Homo sapiens: one gene and its partners. The protein of the gene in region 3 interacts with the protein of the main gene of each other region in a pairwise test. Each region holds a gene or a part of one and is shown on either strand. Other genes may lie near its edges.

What was found. The genes of interacting proteins can lie anywhere in the genome.
Region 1: the proteins of EYA3 (region 3) and HSPD1 interact in binary tests that used the Homo sapiens proteins (3 or more experiments, as listed by UniProt).
Region 2: the proteins of EYA3 (region 3) and WFS1 interact in binary tests that used the Homo sapiens proteins (3 or more experiments, as listed by UniProt).

The regions. Positions count from the first base shown.
Region 1 is NC_000002.12:197,496,841-197,503,981, forward strand, and holds the start of HSPD1 (60 kDa heat shock protein, mitochondrial), read right to left. Parts: upstream 3,001-7,141; 5' UTR 2,942-3,000; intron 2,011-2,941; 5' UTR 2,009-2,010; coding exon 1,835-2,008; intron 553-1,834; coding exon 300-552; intron 1-299. Other genes in the region: HSPE1-MOB4 protein, read left to right, coding at 3,597-3,599, 4,234-4,398; HSPE1 (10 kDa heat shock protein, mitochondrial), read left to right, coding at 3,597-3,599, 4,234-4,398, 6,199-6,288, 6,369-6,419. UniProt on the Homo sapiens protein: Chaperonin implicated in mitochondrial protein import and macromolecular assembly. Together with Hsp10, facilitates the correct folding of imported proteins.
Region 2 is NC_000004.12:6,293,850-6,300,849, forward strand, and holds part of WFS1 (wolframin), read left to right. Parts: intron 1-1,191; coding exon 1,192-1,340; intron 1,341-6,807; coding exon 6,808-7,000. UniProt on the Homo sapiens protein: Participates in the regulation of cellular Ca(2+) homeostasis, at least partly, by modulating the filling state of the endoplasmic reticulum Ca(2+) store.
Region 3 is NC_000001.11:27,969,730-27,973,636, forward strand, and holds the end of EYA3 (protein phosphatase EYA3), read right to left. Parts: 3' UTR 615-3,907; downstream 1-614. UniProt on the Homo sapiens protein: Tyrosine phosphatase that specifically dephosphorylates 'Tyr-142' of histone H2AX (H2AXY142ph). 'Tyr-142' phosphorylation of histone H2AX plays a central role in DNA repair and acts as a mark that distinguishes between apoptotic and repair responses to genotoxic stress.

The sequences.
Region 1 (7,141 bases), on a different chromosome or scaffold from region 3:
CAGGAGGATTGCTTGAGCCCAGGAGTTCCAGTGCAGTCCAGCCTGGGCTACAGAGCAAGACCCTGTCTCTAAAAACAAAAGAAACCAACTAAGTAAAATATCAAAATTACCTAACAGTACCTACCCACCATACAGCCAAGCTTGCTAAAGGAAAACCCAGTTTAAGATTTCTCCAGGCCAAGAGGAGGAATGAGAGAAGGATTAATTTCCTCAAGTTAACACTTTCCTTAGGTCCAAGGAATCAATGCCTTAAAGCACACTGAAGTTTAGAACACTGTGGTGACAACAGACATTCCTACCTCTCCTGATTTCCACTGGATTAGCACCTTTGCTAATCTTCTCGAAGCCTTCCTTGGCTATAGAGCGTGCCAGTACAGTAGCAGTGGTAGTGCCATCCCCAGCTTCTTCATTTGTGTTATTGGCAACATCTTGAACAAGTTTAGCTCCAATGTTTTTGTATTTATCTTTTAAGTCAATTGACTTTGCAACAGTCACACCATCTTTTGTTACTTTGGGACTTCCCCAACTCTGCTCAATAATCACTGTTCTTCCCTAGAAGAAAAAAATGTAACAGGATCAGACATACCCTAAGGATGATTTACATTTTTAAAAATGAGCAGTCTTCATAATAAAGCAACTACTTCAAAGTCTCAACGTAAGTTGTGTCATTTTTATCAGTCTTGCAGCATGAACCTCAAGGGCAAGTTTATCGACATTCTTTGTCTACAGACAAAATGACCTGATTCTCTGCCAAGAGCATAATTTTGAACTAGGTAATTTAGGAGATTAAAATCCTAGGGACTAAAACTTGTCATCTTATAAAATGAACAAGAACACAAGACAAAGAATAAAACAATCTTCCTATCACTTATACTTTAGTTAGTGCCTGTTATCTTTTAAAGTAATGTGACTTGTTTTAAAATCCGTTTAACTAAAATATTAACCATCAAGGCAAGTAGCGTGCTCTTCCAGGTTCACGCAACATAAAACTTCAACCATGGCACAATTATTGGCCATCCTTTGGATTTGAACTAAAGCTGCTACTTTCTATTTGTGAGGTGTGCAAATGTTGTATTTTAGGCAGTTGTTGGATCACTTGATATCTGAACTGTCTTCAAACTGAAATGAAGCACCACTTGACTGCACACCACCTTCAAAGGCCTCCTCAAAACATTACCCCTATTAAATGAGACTTATTTTAAATATGCTTTGGAACAAGAGAACAGCAGAAAACCGATGGGTAAAACTAGCATCTTGGGGTGGAGGAGAGAATGGGAAGCTACTGTCTAATGAGTACAAAGTTACAATTTTTCCATATAAAAAGTTTTGGAGATGGATGGTGGTGATGACTGCACAACATAAATGTAATTGATGTCCCCAAAGTGCACACTTAATGGTAATTTTATGTTGTGTACATTTTACTACAATAAACCAAAAAAAAATTTAGCATCTACAAGCACATACCTAAGGAATTATGGAAGATAAGTTAAACTCTTCTCTCTACACTTGGCATGAACTACTGGGAAAGGATCCAAATTTTAACTTAAGCCAGCGAAATTCTACCTCGAGTTTAAGAATCCACCTTGAGCTGTAAGTTACTACCTGATTACATCACACATTGAACAAAATAGTTTCGAAAATCTGGCTGAAGCAGTTTAAGCTTTAAGATCATGTCTAAGAAAAAAAGGCTAACCAATACTTCAGAATTCTTACATGTAAACTGAGTTCTCTCAAAAATGGAGATGAAAGTACTGTTGAATAGTTCAGTGCGACTATTTGTGAGTAAAATGCTATTAATAATACCGTAATTACAATAAAATAAAAATACTGGTACCTTTGGCCCCATTGTAACGGCCACAGCATCGGCTAAAAGGTCTACACCTTGAAGCATTAAGGCTCGGGCATCTGCACCAAATTTTACATCTTTGGCATAAGCCCGAGTGAGATGAGGAGCCAGTACCCTGGACACCGGTCTCATCTGGCGAAAGACTGTGGGTAACCGAAGCATTTCTGGGGATGGAAGCAAAAAGATCATCAGAACTACCACCCGTGGTGCGCTGCAGAACAAACATGCCCACCTGTGCAACAGAGCAAGCAACGTGAGATGCTGAGCCTGGCTGACCTCCGCCAGCCACTACGCCTGAATGACGGAAGGCGCCGCAGCTTCGGAACATCAGCCACTAGCGCAAGCTAAAGAGGCCGCCCCGGCCGGCGCCTGACCTATAGCACCAGCACAAAGCACATGCGGCTCCTTCCCCACGGCCACCTATCCCTGCCGCCAAAAACGAGTTAATCTTTCACCGCGAAAACGGCCTTGTGGGCAGACCCACTCCAACTGTGGCCCCTGAGAAACCAAGTCAGCCGGAGAGAGGCAAGTTACAAATCCAAGTGACCAGGGAAGTTAAAAGTATTCCTGACGGTGCAAAAAGCCGCTCAGCAAAGTGTCTCCATGGATCCACCCAAGGCTACTGTATCAGAGCAACCAGCAAGGCCGCGATGCTGGGGGCGGCGGCCCGGCCCACTCGGCGCGAGCCCACGTGTCCTTCTTTCCGAACGCCCCCAGCAAGGTCAAGACTGGAGGCGCGGTATCCCAGCTGCCTGCGGGGGAAAAAAGCGGTTCCCTCACGTACACCACCCTCCCCGGTTCCCTGAAGTCGGCCAGGCGCAGGTTGCACCAGCGGGCCTAAGTGGTTACAATCCCCCAAATTCAAACCCCACGAGTTGTCCCTCCCGCGCCCAGCCGAGGTCCAGGATCCGCGTCGCACGTGATGGAACCCGCATGGACCCGCGAGGCCTGGACCCGCAGGCCTGGGCCTGCGGTGCGGCGCGGTGCGGAACTCCAGGTTGTCGCCGCCCGCACCCTCCAGCTGGACCGCAGAGGAGGAAGGCCCACTCGGGGGTCGCAGGAGCCGGGGGGAGGTGGTGCGGGAAGGCCGCGTACCTGCGGGGCGGCGGCAAGGCGTGCGCTCGGCGAGACAGGTCGTCGGCGGCGAGTGAGGGACAGAGTGCAGGGCGCACACCGCAATGAGCCCGTGTCCCCTCCCTCCGCCTCTACTCCCGCCCCGCGGCACCGCGTGTGCAGGCAGCTCCCACCCACTTCCCGTCAGCCCGGGCCCTGCAATCTGCACACCCTGCGCGCGAGCCCCGCCCCTCCCTACCCGCGCAGGGTGTGCTAGCGCGCTCAGCCCTCTCCGGCCGGCTTAGTCTAGTTCCCGGGCCTCGCTCGGTTCCAGAACTTTCCAGAAAATGCCGCGCTCCCTACGGCTCAAGGGTCAAATCGCGTCATTTCCGGGAGGGGACGAAGGGGTAGTTCTTTCACCTCGGCTGGGCGCCTAGAAAAGCCTAGAAACAGCTCCTTTTTTCTTCCGCCTCCGAGTCTTCGCGTCAGCGTCCTGCGCAGGGCCCTTGGGGCGAATCGCGGTGCGCGTCGGGGCGACCGCCCTCCCTCCCTGGGAGGGGCGAGGGGGCTAGCGGCGACCGCTGGGGCGAGCGCGCCTGCGCGCTGGGTGATTTTTTCACGTGTCGCCAGGGCCGGACTGCGAGTCTCTTTGCGGCGCTACACTAGAGCAGAGTACGAGTCTGAGGCGGAGGGAGTAATGGTGAGTCCCGCGTGGCCCCGAGGCCTGCAGGCCCGGGCCTGTCTGAGGCGTACGGGGATCCCTGACGCCCCTCTTTTGTTGGGCTGGGCGGGAGGGATTGGTGGCCACTCAGTGACCAGCGCCCGATGGCACCTTGGAGCGGCAAGGCCCGCCCGACCCTTTTCTCCCCCAGGGCTCTTTGCACGCGCGTGTGCTGCCGGTGTGTAAGGCAGGGGGGCGAGAACCCGGGCGCACGCGCAGCGTCTCACCTGCTTCTGCAGGGCCTTTGTGGATGTGTAATATCTTGGGTAAAAATCATGGTGCCAGGCAGGGAGCTTGACCCAGCGTTTCCTGAAAATTTCTGGAAAAACCTGAAGAAGGAAAACATTTGACCTTGGAATAAACTAAGGTTGACCTTAAAGCTGGTCTGGTTGCTCACCGGAGGAGCGACAACGACCCCTAACAGACGTAAGGAATCGGGAATTAAACTTGGAATATTGGTTAGTACATTCAAATGCGCTTCCTTAACGAATAAGCTGAGGTTTGGTGTTAACTTTCAAAGCCAAAACGTGTTGAGATGTATAGCACGGTGGCGTTGCCTGTTGATAATGTGATTACATTTAGTTTTTGTTTCAAAACATTTCTCTTCCTACAGGCAGGACAAGCGTTTAGAAAGTTTCTTCCACTCTTTGACCGAGTATTGGTTGAAAGGAGTGCTGCTGAAACTGTAACCAAAGGAGGCATTATGCTTCCAGAAAAATCTCAAGGAAAAGTATTGCAAGCAACAGTAGTCGCTGTTGGATCGGGTTCTAAAGGAAAGGTAAATGGGAGCTGCAGTGGAACTATTTTTTATAGTGTGCAGTGGAGGGAAAAGAAGTAATTCTGGAGTATTAAAAGTCGCTTATTAAGTAGAGTTTATGTCGTTTTCAAGATCATTAACTGCTTTGGTTCTAATCTGTTTCTTAAAGGGAAATGACTAATATAAAGTTGCTTATTTTATATGACCAATGCTATGATGCTTATTTTATGTGATAGTTTCAGAGTATTAAAAATTGTCCTCAATAGGCCGGGTGCGGTGGCTCTCGCCTGTAATCTCAGCACTTTGGGAGGCCGAGGTGTGCGGATCACAAGGTCAGGAGTTCAAGACCAGCCTGACCAACATGGTGAAACCCCGTCTCTACTAAAGATACAAAAATTAGCCGGGTGTGGTGGCATGCGCCTGTAATCCCAGCTACTGGGGAGGCTGAGGCAGGAGAATCATTTGAACCCTGGAGGCGGAGGTTGCAAGGAGCCGAGGTTGCAAGGCGCCCCTGCATTCCAGTATGGGGGACAGGGCGAGATTCTGTCTCAAAAAAAAAAAAAAAAAATCCCCTCAATAGCAATTTGGTAGCCTAGTGTGATCAGTGTTTGCCTTACATTCTAAATTTTTAATAAGACAAAAGAGGCTGTGCGTGGTGGCTCACACCTGTAATCCTTGCATTTTGGGAGGCCAAAGCAGGAGGATCGTTTGAGCTCAGGATTCAAAATCAGGAGTTCAAAATCAGTCTGGGCAACATAATGAGACCTCCTGTCTACAAAATAAATAAATACAAAAGATGTGCTTCAAGGTAAAATGAGGGGGCATTTAAGAATTGAGAGGAAACTTGGACTGTTCGTTTAACCCCTAACACATTGAAATTGCCCTAATCTTAACCAGTTGGTATACCTGGTTGTATACCTACCAGAGGAACAGGTTGGTCAGTCTTGTCCAATCTGCAGCCTGGGACAGCTCTGAATGCCGCCTAACGCAAATCCCTAAACTTTCTTAAAACCTGATATTTCTTTTGCAATTTTTTTTAAGCTTACCAGCTACTGCTAATGTTAGTGTATTTTATGTGTGGCCCAACACAGTTCTTCCAGTGTGGCCCAGGGAAGCCAAAAGATTGCACACCTCTGTTTTAGATGTTCCTCAGTTAATTGTTTAGGCCTCGGGCTTCTAAAGATCTCAGCCAAAATACACAGTAAACGCCGTTGGGGCCAAATAATGTTAACTGCATTGTTCTAGTTGCTTCTGAGGAGGAAAGCTCTACTGAGGAGCTGTCATGGAGTTAGGAATAGGAAGACTTTGGGGAGTGGACACTTAGCTGCAGTCCCTTTCCCCAAATCTGTTCTTTGGAGGGAACAAAACAATCACAAGAGTATGTTCTAAATCCAAAAAAACTTTAAATTTTTGTATGTTGAAAGAAGGAAAATATGACCATTTGTATATGGCATTTTCTGGGTGCTGGCTACTGTTGCAGGTTTATTTCATATAGTTGATAAGTTATGTTAATATTTAACAGTTATAAAGTTAGCTTTAGTTAACTAAAGTTAGCTTTTCCAGAATATTTTCTTGAACTTTTACGTTGGAGTCAGGTTTTAGTTTAAGCCACTGTGTATTATTTCAAAGTGTAACTACAGTGGTATTTTTGAGTGAAGATCTGTAATTCTAGTATGAGTCGTATCACTTAGCCACGAAATATATTTTTAATATAATTGGATTTGAGTGACCATGTTTCATTAGTTGTAGTGATTTAAAAGTTAACTGTTTATGTTGGGTGAACTAGATATCTTTGCTAATAAACATCCTTCCTTTTTTAAGGGTGGAGAGATTCAACCAGTTAGCGTGAAAGTTGGAGATAAAGTTCTTCTCCCAGAATATGGAGGCACCAAAGTAGTTCTAGATGACAAGGTGTGTAAACTTAATAATTCTAAAAAGAAGTCAGATATTTGCAATTAGTTGTCTTAACTAATGGTTTTTTTCACTTGCAGGATTATTTCCTATTTAGAGATGGTGACATTCTTGGAAAGTACGTAGACTGAAATAAGTCACTATTGAAATGGCATCAACATGATGCTGCCCATTCCACTGAAGTTCTGAAATCTTTCGTCATGTAAATAATTTCCATATTTCTCTTTTATAATAAACTAATGATAACTAATGACATCCAGTGTCTCCAAAATTGTTTCCTTGTACTGATATAAACACTTCCAAATAAAAATATGTAAATGAGTGGTTAATCTTTAGTTATTTTAAGATGATTTTAGGGTTTTCTAGTTTATGCTTTTTTTCTGTTTTTCAAGTAACCTGCAGAGAATTTTGGGAAACAGGATTTTCTACGTAGGTGCATTTTCACACTGAATTTAGCTTTATTAATACATGATTGATACTGATACCAAGCCATGGATTTACTTTTTTTTTTTTTTTTTCTGAGACGGATTCTCACTCTGTCACCCAGGCTGGAGTGCAGTGGTTCAATCTTGGCTTACTGCAACCTCCGCCTTCTGGGTTCAAGTGATTCTCCTCCCTCAGCCTCCAGAGTACCTGGGATTACAGGCGTGCACCACCATGCCCAGCTAATTTTTGTGTTTTTAGTAGAGACAGGTTTTGCCATGTTGCCCAGGCTAGTCTCAGACTCCCAAAGTGCTGGGATTACAAGCGTGAGCCACCACAGCAACATTCAGATTTCAAATATAACAAGCTAACGAGTTACAGGTCTTAAGGTGTTCAATACTTTGTGGATACAGGTCTTCATTCCTAACTC
Region 2 (7,000 bases), on a different chromosome or scaffold from region 3:
GCAAGCCCCCAGCCCGCCCAGGCTGCATCCAGCCCGTGCTCCTTCCACATCTCCTGTACCTGGCTGTCCCATGGTCACCTCACAGCTCAGTCTACAGTGAGCTACTGAGGCCTGTGCTACCTGCCACTTGTGTGGGCCCCCCCAAGGCTGCCTCATCTCTTTGCTGCAGCTACACCTGGGTGCTGCCCCGACTCCTCTCCTCTTGCACACACAGCTGATCCATTAGGAGGTCTGTCAGCGCCCACTATCACGGCTGCCATCTTGGATGCAGCCTGCCTCCTCCCTAGGGTTTCTGCAGCACCCTGGCTTGTCTCCCTCTGCCCTGCCCCAGCATGGTCCTTTCTTTCCCATCCTTCCCCTGGAGGCCCTCCTGGTCACCATCTCACCACGGCAACTGGGGTCCTTCAGGGGCCTCATTCCCTCCTAGGGGATCATGTTGGATAGAGGGGTCAGTGGGCACGTAGCTCTCGCGGATCACGTTGGATGGAGGGATCAGTGGGCACGTAGCAGGCTCTTGGTGGAAGATGTTGGATGGAGGGGTAAGTCGGCCCATGGCAGGACGCATGTTGAATGGACGGGTTAGCAGGCATGTAGTAGGCCCATGGCAGACACTTGTTGGATGGAGGTGTCAGCAGGCACATAGTAGGTGTGTGGCAGATCATGTTGGATGGAGCGGTTTAGCAGGTGCACAGTAGGCCCTGGGTGGATCACGTTGAATGGAGGGGTTGGGGGCGCAGATCATGTTCGATGGAGCGGTTGGCAGGGTACTGCCCTACAGGGCGGCTTGTCACCCGTGCTGTGAGAAGCCCCACGCTGGCTGAAGAGGAGGGTGTCAGCATGCACTGGAGGTGCATGTTGTAAGGCTTGGCAGGTGAACTGGGTGAAAGGTGTGGGTGAGTGGCCCCAGGCATAAGGAGCTAGGCAGAGAGGGACACTTGGGGTGGGGGACAGCACACCCAGGGGCCGGGGGCCAGGAGTGGAGGCTGGCACTTGGCAAACCTGCCCCCTTCCTCCTCACCCAGCCTGGTCCTCAACCCTCAGGCCGCCCAGGGAAGGGTTTCCTCCACCTGAACCCACTCAGCTCCTTTCTTAGCTTGGCCCCACGCCACCGTCCCCAGCCCATTGCTCTGTGTGAGGGTGGCAGTGGGGCTGCAGTGTGGGGCGCCCATGCTGTTTTCTCTCATGCTTCAGCCAAGAACTACATCGCGCTGGATGACTTTGTGGAGATCACTAAGAAGTACGCCAAGGGCGTCATCCCCAGCAGCCTGTTCCTGCAGGACGACGAAGATGATGACGAGCTGGCGGGGAAGAGCCCTGAGGACCTGCCACTGCGTCTGAAGGTGAGTGACCAAGACCCCGGTCAGGCCGGAGCCTGCCTCCCAAGGACTCGCGCACCTCAGGCAGGGCACCTTCCAGGAAGCTGCAGGTGGGGAGGTTCGCGCCTAACAAAGAGTGTCTTACAGCCGTGCCGCTGGTACCTTTGGGTCATCATCTATCGTCATAAGGATGTGTCCTCGGGAGAGAGGCCTTTCTTTTCTGCGCCGTCAGGCTCAGAAACCAGGGGCGGTGTTGGGCAGGAGTGCTAGGATGGCAAGCAAGGGGCCCCTGGGTCTTTCTGTGCAGTGTAGGGGGCAGTGGGGCGGGCTGGACGCAGACTTTCATCTAGACTTCATCACTTAGCAGATTTCTCCATGTATGGTCCAGAGTGGAGGCCAGTGCCTTGAAGATGCCTTCCCCGAAAACAAAGTGCCGTGTCCGTCAGGCCAGGGAGGACGTGCAGAGGCGCCTACTGCCCCTGGATCTGCAAGGGCTCAGGGAGCGAGGCCAGTGTGGGAGCGTGGTGGGTGACACTTGTGCAGGGTGCCATTGGGCACACCTGGAGGACATGAGCAGCTTTGGCGGCAGGAGGAAAGCGGGGAGCGGGGAGCGGGAAGCCCAGCAGTGCGGGCCCTACTCCTGGCCTGACAGCTTGTTTTCTTGGCCATGTGGCCCTATGGCCTCTCACAGAGTTGCTCACAGTTCAGCTCGCATGGTTGAATTAGATGTGTGCCTGTCTCACTCTGCAGAGAACACCAGGATTTCCAGAAGCTTGGCCTCCTGACCCAGGATCCCCAAGCTGAGGCCAGCACAGGGGGCCCCAGCAGATGATTGTCACAGAGGCTGCGGGCAGTATCATGCAGGCACCCTGGGGTTCTGTCTTCTGAACTGACTGAGAACCTGGAGGAACTGCCATCATTGTATTCAGATGGGCGCGTGAGTCAGGGCCAGGACCAGGAGATGGTTGGGCCACCAACTGTCAGGCAGGCAGCAGGCTGAAAGGTCACCGTCCTCGAGCCAGGGAGAAGGTCAGAGTAGGCCCGCCCTCCGGTGGGGGGGAAGAGCAGGAACCCAGGTGCTGCAGGAGCAGCTTCAGCCCAAAGAGCAGCAGGCACAGCAGCCCTGCTGCAGGGACTCGGAGCCAGACAGGTCTGAGTGTGAGCCCCCCGAGTGCCCAGAGCTGCGAGTCCTTTAGGGTGGCAGGTGGAAGGCTCTGCTCCTCCCACTTGGGACAGGCTGTATGTCCAGGGTATGACACCGACCGGTCTGCAGAGGTTCTGAGACATGGGCCAGGATGGCCAAGAACTTGAACCAAGGGAGCACATGGTTTTTACTGATGGTCTGCTCAGAGCTGGCCCTAGGCAAGCATATTCACAGATTGGGTGCCATCATCTCCTTACTAATGGGAGATGAGGAAGCTGGGGTGCTGGCATGGTTTTGGCAAAGACACTCCCGAAATGAGAGTGAGGGTCACAGGTGAACGGGTTAACTTGGAGAAGACCCTTGGGCCAGGCGGCCATGGCCCAGGTGTCCCAGTTTATGCCATCTGGTGTAAGTACTATTATAATAATGCCTCCTTGCATATGCGTCCTGTTCGGAAAATTATGTCACCTAGTTATGGATGGTGAGTCTAGTGTTGTGTAGCATCTGAAAATCCTATTTATTTATGTTACTTAATGACAGGGTCTCGTTCTGTTGCACAGGCTGGAGTGCAGTGGCACGGTCACAGCTCACTGCAGCCTCAACGTGCCAAACTCAAGTGATCCTCCCACCTCAGCCTCCCAAATAGCTGGACTACAGGCATGTGCCACCACACCCAGCTGATTTTTTTGAAAACATTTTGTAGCGATGGGGGTCTCACTATTGTTATCTACGCTGGTCTCAAACTCCTGGGTCAAGCGAGCCTCCCACTTTGGCCTCCCACACTGCTGGGATTCAGGCGTGAGACACTGTATCCAGCCTGAAAGTCCTTTTTAGAAGGGAGAGATTTAAGCTGTTTTGACAAGAAGTAAACAAGACTCTGTTTCCCTTTAGTTTTGGATGCTGTCAGAGCACTTCGATTCCTTTGCAGTTTGTCTTCTTAGAAGTCTCTTGTGAGGGAGGCAATGAATCGTCACAAGCGTCTCCCAGGGCTGAGAGCTGTCCCACCTTTTAGTAGCCTTTTGTAGAACAAGGAGAGGTCTTCACTCAAAGTGAAAATGACAGACACCTCTTTGTGAGCCACCCTTACTCCCACAAAGAATGTTCCAGACTCCACACAGTTCTCTTCTGGAGCCTGGAGGTGCAAGCTGTCATCGTAGATAGAATCCTCTGAAAACAAACTTAATATCTTAAAATCGTAACATTTTTAACATTACATAATTGGAAGATCCGACACGGGAACATTTTTGCCCACAGGTTTGAGCAGAATCTCGTCTCGGCTCCCTTCCCCAGCCTGCCTTCTTCACGGGTCCGCTGGGCCATCGGTGTGGTGACGCTGCTTCCTGGTTTCTCGTGGCAGCAGAAGGGCCGATCACCACAGGCCCAGACAGAGAGCTCTGCAGTGTTCTATTCATAGAGGCAGACTCCTCATAGTTTTTAAGTTTCGTTCTTTTTCCATCTCAGGAGTTGAATTTGTTTGGACCTTCTTTGCAGAAAAGGAGACTGAACTTTTTAATCCCATGTCAGAGGAAGGTCTTGGGTGTACATTGCAGGGAGCAGAAATTGGGGCTTTAAAAAGGGGATCGTTCCCTGGTCATCGAGTTCAGGTGGGGGACCAGCCCCTCCACACTGTCCAAGCAGAGGCTAGACGCCATCCAACGTAATGTTCTAGAATATTCCTTGTCTTTTAAAGGCCCTCTCAACCAGGTGGTTGTGTGTGTTCTAGGCAAAAGAATGTGCATGGCTTTGAGTAAGACAGGATTTCAGATTTATTTTTACCAAGGCCACCCCCTTGCTACCGTGGCGGTCGTGCGTGAAACTGGTGGTGAGCAGTGGCGGGCCAGGCCACCTTTAGTTGTCCTGCTGTTCGCAAGGCCCCCATACGGGGATTAACTGAGCAGCCTGCCGGCTGACGCACATGTTGACTCGTGTAGCTGTTGATTTTAGCCAGCTGGCCTGGCGTCATACTACAGGGGCTTGCCCCAAACAAACCCTGGAGTAGGTTGGTTTTCATAAATGCCCTCTGGCTCTCTGGCAAGCGTTGGAAATGCCCTCAAACCCTGTAGTGCCTGGTCTTCCCTGGCCATCTCCTGGCAGTGTGAGCGCCTCTCTGCTCATGTAGAAGGTTGTTGACCCCAGAGAGAGCTAGGGGAGCTGTTAGCTGCTTTAATCGTTTATTTGCTTGTTATAAAACAGAGATTAAGTGGACTGTCACAAATATACATGAAGCAGCAGAGCTGTTCCCCCACGTGTAGACGTGCATGCACACACTCCTAAACACTTCCGTTTCTTCCATGAGCCTGTCCTTCTCATCTGTGGAAGGCTCAGTCTGTGTAGACATGCATGCACACACTCATAACACTTCCGTTTCCTCCATGAGCCTGCCCCTCTCCTCTCATCTGTGGAAGACTCAGTCTTCTGGTTGTTTCCAGGTGTCCTGGTCCTCCAGAGCTGATAGCCAGGCTGTTGGCAGGTGAGGGCCACATTCTGGTGTTGTCACCTAGTTGCCATTCACCTGGGATCCCTCCTTGGCCTTCTGGTGGGCCTGGTGGAGAGAACCTGCCCCAGGGGATTTGTGGGGTCTGGTGCTTCCCCGAGGCCCGGAGCTGATGGGGGGCTCCAGCCTGGATGTGTCATGTAGCCCCTCAGTGGGCCCTGGACATGCAGCCAGGCTTCCCTACCCCCATGTGGGGCCGCCCCCTAGGCGTCCACTTCCTGGTGTTGGTCCAGGCCCCTGGCACTTCTGAAGATGCACAGAACCTGCTTTGTATGCCACGCCATGCTGTGTGAGCACTGGCACCATGGCCACTTTGTCCCCCATCCCCTCCAGTCCCTCTGCCTGGCTGCCCTGTGTTCTGGCAGGGCTCAGGGCCTCTGAGTTCTGCACAGACCAGGAAGGCATGAGGGCTGGCCCTGGGTGGCAGCGCTGCTTCACCCCATCCTGAGGCTGCTCCCAGCATGCCTCCCTCAGCCCTCTGCTCCTCTTGGCTGTGGTGAAGGCCAAGAGCTCTTTCTGACCTTAGCGCTGCATGCAGAGCAGGGGAGCAGGACCCACAGGTCGGGGGAAGGCAGCCTTTGGCCTTGACTATGGGGAGGTAGGGGTGCGCTGGTGTGTATGTGTAGGTGCACACGTGTAGGGGTGGGTGTGCATGTGTGAGGGTGCACGTGTGGGGGTGGGTGTGCACGTGTGTGTAGGGGTGGGTTGCGTGTGTGTGAATGTGTATAGGGGTGGGTTGTGTGAATGTGTGTGTAGGGGTGGGTTGCGTGTGTGTGAATGTGTGTGTAGGGGTGGGTTTGAATGCAGGTAGGTTGCGTGTGTGTGTAGGGGTGGGTTGCGTGTGTGTGAATGTGTGTGTAGGGGTGGGTTGTTTGCGGGTAGGTTGCGTGTGTGTGAATGTGTGTGTAGGGGTGGGTTGTGTGAATGCGGGTAGGTTGCGTGTGTGTGTGTAGGGGTGGGTTGCGTGTGTGTGAATGTGTGTGTAGGGGTGGGTTGTTTGAATGCGGGTAGGTTGCGTGTGTGTGAATGTGTATAGGGGTGGGTTGTGTGAATGCGTGTGTGTAGGGGTGGGCTGCATGTGTGTGTGTAGGGGTGGGTTGTGTGTGTGTGTATGGGGTGGGTTTGTGTGAATGCGTGTGTGTAGGGGTGGGTTGCGTGTGTGTGTGTGCACGTGTGTGTACGGGCAGAAGGTGGCCTGGCAGCTGCTTCTCAGGGTCTCCGGCCATAGGGAGGGCAGCTCACCCGGCAGCCCCGTGCAGCTGAACGGTATTTTTGCTGGGAGAGTGGTGCTGGGCCCTCTGCCTGTGTCTGCACTGAACTCCCTTTCCCTAATGCTTGCTCTGCCACCCCTCCGGGGACTGCCTGCGGCTTCTCCTCCTCGTAAGGATCGCCATTTCCCTTCATGGAGGCTCAGGGAGGTGACATCCTTGCTGTAGTGCAGAGCTGGGTCACAAAACCAGCTCCCAGACAGGCATCTCAGGGCTCCGTCATCTCTTCATGTGGGTGACCCTGAGGGGAGGGAAGTGGGGAGCCCGTGGGTCCCTCCAGTGCTGGAGGTCTTGCAGGGAGAGAAGCACACATGCATCTAGTCACGCTGGTAGAAGGTGGGGAGCCAGGCACGGGGCAGAGGGGGGCTCCAGGCCCAGAAGAGGGAGGGCTCACAGGGACCGCGAGCATGGGGAGGGCCACCTGGAGAAGGGGGGAGGGAGGACCACTAGGATGGGGCTGGTGATGGGAAAACGCAAGGGTGCGGGTTCCTTTTGCCCAGAGGCAGGGTGGTCAGAGGGAGGCGTGAGATGGGAGCAGTGGGGGTCCTGTCCCAGCCTCGTTCCCACGTACCATCTTTCCCCCAGGTGGTCAAGTACCCCCTGCACGCCATCATGGAGATCAAGGAGTACCTGATTGACATGGCCTCCAGGGCAGGCATGCACTGGCTGTCCACCATCATCCCCACGCACCACATCAACGCGCTCATCTTCTTCTTCATCGTCAGCAACCTCACCATCGACTTCTTCGCCTTCTTCATCCCGCTGGTCATCTTCTACC
Region 3 (3,907 bases):
AACATTTAATAACTAGAATAGGCAACTTCCTCTTTTCTGGGGAATTTTTGGAAAAATACATCTTATAGTCTGACATGTATGGTACTTGGAAGCTAGAACCCAATTCTGATTTCCTTCATTGGACTAAAAGGCAGAAAGGCTTTGTGACTGTTTTCCAGACCAGAGGGATACAGCCAGACCCAAATCAGAGAAATGAAATGAGAAAAAGTAGTTGATGTGACAGGAAATCAGGGCAAATCAAATGAGGTTTGGTATCAGTTTGTCAGTTTTATCGCTTTTGTGGTTTAAGTGCAGTGCAGCAAGGTACTGATTTCTCTCCTTAATAAATTTCAGCATATTTGGAAGTGAATGAAATCTTTTCTCACTCCAGTTCTAAACTTTAAAAGCAATATATTTTAGAAACAATACATTCTCCCATACAAATTATTTTAAAATATTTTCCCATGTATATTTATACCAAATGGTTTGTTCTTACTTTTTTGGTGAAATGACCCAGTTACTGAAAGGGTGACATCTTTCTAATGAACTCTTAGAATTTTTATGAAGCCATAATTAGGACCCCACACAGCTGGGCAACTGTGCTGATCCTATTCAGAAAAGACACAGGAGCAAACTATAGAAAATAAAAACTTTATTTTTTTCAAGTTTATAAGATAGTTCCCATTACATATAACATTACGGTCACGGATTCTACAGCCACAAATGCCCGCAGTCACATAAATATATCCAATCCAATCAATGCCTTTTCCTGCTAACAGAGGCATCTGAAGTTCAGAGGGAGAGTCGCATTTTGAGTAGAAGTCGTCCTTAATGGGAGGGCTCCTGTCAGTGCATTAGGAACTAGCCAAGGAGCCTTGCTTGCCAGAGCTGTCTGACTCAGAGGAGAGGAAGGGACAGATGGCCTGCTGACTGGGGCTGAGGCAGAACTAGATTTTCTCTCTTGTGGTTTAAGATATTTTAGAATCTCGGAATTCAGATCCTATAGTGTGAATATCTGGGGAGTTCTAACTTCTGGATGAAAAAGGAAACCAATTTAGTGGTAAGAAATAGAAGCCTGCTTAAGAGGGACCCTAACTGCCTCCTTGAGGAGTAAGGAGTCAGAGGAAGACCCTAAGCTCACCATTCCTTGGCCCAGACCATTGCTCTACCCCATACTCCTCTCCCCTGTGGTTCAGTGACACTGACAACCATTCAAGGTAGTAAACATCTAGAAGCTCCACATGCTGCAGCTAGAGTTTGCAAGTCAGATTCTATTTGGAATTTTAAAGCTGAGTTTGTGTAAACTGCGAACAAGCTGTGGCATCAGTCTCTTGGGACAACTCACTAGCTTTACAGAAGACAGGAACGCCGCAAATCAAACAAAAGCCCAGATGGGCATCTAAATCTGGAGCAGGTGTCCATTCTTCTGGACACTACCAGCTGCCCCAGGGGCACTGGACAGGGTGATGCTAAGGCACAGTCAGTTTTACATTCGAAAGTCAAGCCACCTCCTCAACCCAAGACACACCTCACTCCAGATCTACTACTAGAGAGAGCCCTCACCGTGACATTACAGACCCATCCTGTAGAACCCACAGTGCCTGGCCAGGCATGGTGGCTCATGCCTGTAATCCCAGCACTTTGGGAGGCCAAGGTGAGCAGATCACCTGAGGTCAGGAGTTTGAGAACAGCCTGGTCAACATGGTGAAACCCCATCTCTACTAAAAATACAAAAATTAGCCAGGCGTGGTGGTGGGCGCCTGTAATCTCAGCTAATCAGGAGGCTGAGGTAGGAGAATCGCTTGAACCTGGGAGGCGGAGGTTGCAGTGAGCCGAGATCATGCCACTGTACTCCAGCCTGGGTGACAGAGCGAGACTCCATCTCAACAACAACAACAAAAAAAAAAAAAAAAAAAAAAAGAGAACCCACCATGCCCAGCTAGGGAAGGACTCATCATTTGGCTAATTTCATGAGGACTCTAATGAAGAGGGTCTCCCCCTTGATGAATGGACCCACAGTGTCCTTTGGTCCTCAGCTTCTAACAGCTCTTAATCCTACCCACTTATTTTCCTTTCCAGATTTTTGTGTTGGGGTGGAGAAAAAGGCAGGGTAATTACAGAGAGCACTGTGTTCCCTGGACAATTCATTTTGGCAAACAGCCAAGAAGCTCCTGTTTTCTCTCTTCCATTTAAATGAGGGTGGCAACAACCAGGAATGAGCAAAGACTGCTCTGCTCAGCCTCCTTACCTCTCTTGGCCAAGTTCAAGTTCCTTTTGGAAAGAGCTAAGCTAGGAAGTCAGAGTAAGAGGAAAAAGGCCAATGATAAAAGTGAGTTCAAGTTACATTCTAAAATAAAGAGCTCCCAAAAGGGTGGAGAGGGAAGTATCTGTGTGTGTGTGCTTGCGTGCATGGTGGGGGTACCACTCCGCAGCCTCACAAACCTGAAGCGCAGCACAACAGCCGTGGCCTTTGTCCAGGACAAAAACCCAACAGCTATACTGCATAGGGGGAGGGTTTGAGGCCTCAGAGTAAAACCTAGAGCTTCCTAAGATCAACCATCAAACAAGGCAGAGCAGCATCTAGGCAACTATGCTGAATACAGACCAAGGGAAGGCCTACCTCACACTACATCTCCCTCCTCCCAACCCCACAGGAAACAAGGCCAAAGAGGCAGCTAAGTAAAGGAGCACTGACTTCAGCTACTCAGCAAAAACTTACTCCTTAAAATCACGAGTTATGAGCGCTTTTCAATGAGTTCTGAAGGAATGTGTATACCAGCCTCTCTCTCTTGCTATCTGGGTGGCCTGGCATTGGAAGGAGTCTTGCCTCTTTGTGCTGCAACATCTCTGGAAATGGGTATGCAGAATCTCTGGTGACAAGCAATTATAGCTGGGGTTGGTCAACAATGCCTCCTTCTGCGGACCAATCCTGCATCTCAATCTGAGGTGCTTGTATCATCTCTCTCTGTGTAGCCTGGGAGAGGCTGAACTTCCTCAGCTCTAGGGAATTTTATCCTGCCTGAGTAGATGCCCAAATTGCTCTTGGAGGGATGGGGCATCCAACAATCATGGCTGGGCTGGAAGGCTGTGACTAGTGCCTGGGCACCCACCAATCTGCCCAGAGGTCGAGAGATGCTCCTGCATTTGGCCCAGGATTAAGTTTTGGGCCATGAAGTAGGGAATGATGCAGTACTCTCATTTAAATCAGGAAAGTCTGGCTGGGTGCAGTGGCTCATGCCTACAATCCCAACACTTTGAGAGGCCGAGGTGGGAGGATCGCTTGAGGCCAGGTGTTCAAGACCAGCCTTGGCAACAATGTGAAAACCTGTCTGTTTCTCCCTTCCCCCCACAATCAGCAAAGTCTTTCTGGTTTCCTACTTTAGAATGGGATTTGAGAAGCAGGGTTTTCCATGGGAAAATTTAAATACAGCAATCTGCTCTTCAGTTTCAGGCAGAGATCTGGGTAAATACATACCTGGGACATCCTTCATATGGCTTAGGGCTTCCACAAAGGAAGTCAAATACATTGGCAGTTTTGGCCAAAATGTAGTTATAAGCATGTTTTTAGATTTGATTTGAATTCTTGGGTCTAATACCCGGGGACTGGCCAGAGCTGCCTGGAGGTGGACATGAGGTGCAGAGGGCAGGAAAGGGGTAAGAACCTAGCATTATGATGACCAAGAAGGAAGAAGCTGCAGGGACGAGCATCTGATGGGAAATGGGTGCTTCTCTGCAGGGGGAATAGGTAGAACCTTTCGGTCTCAAGAGCCAAGAAGCTGAAATTCATAAGACACTTTAGTTCCTTCTCTCCAGTTTGGAAGCTAAGCCTCCTGTGATACAGTCTGAATGACAGTCAAGCTGAAGGAGTTTTTAGGGTTGTGCCATTTGACTAAAGGGAAAAGGGACTGGAAAGAAGACTAAGGCTTCT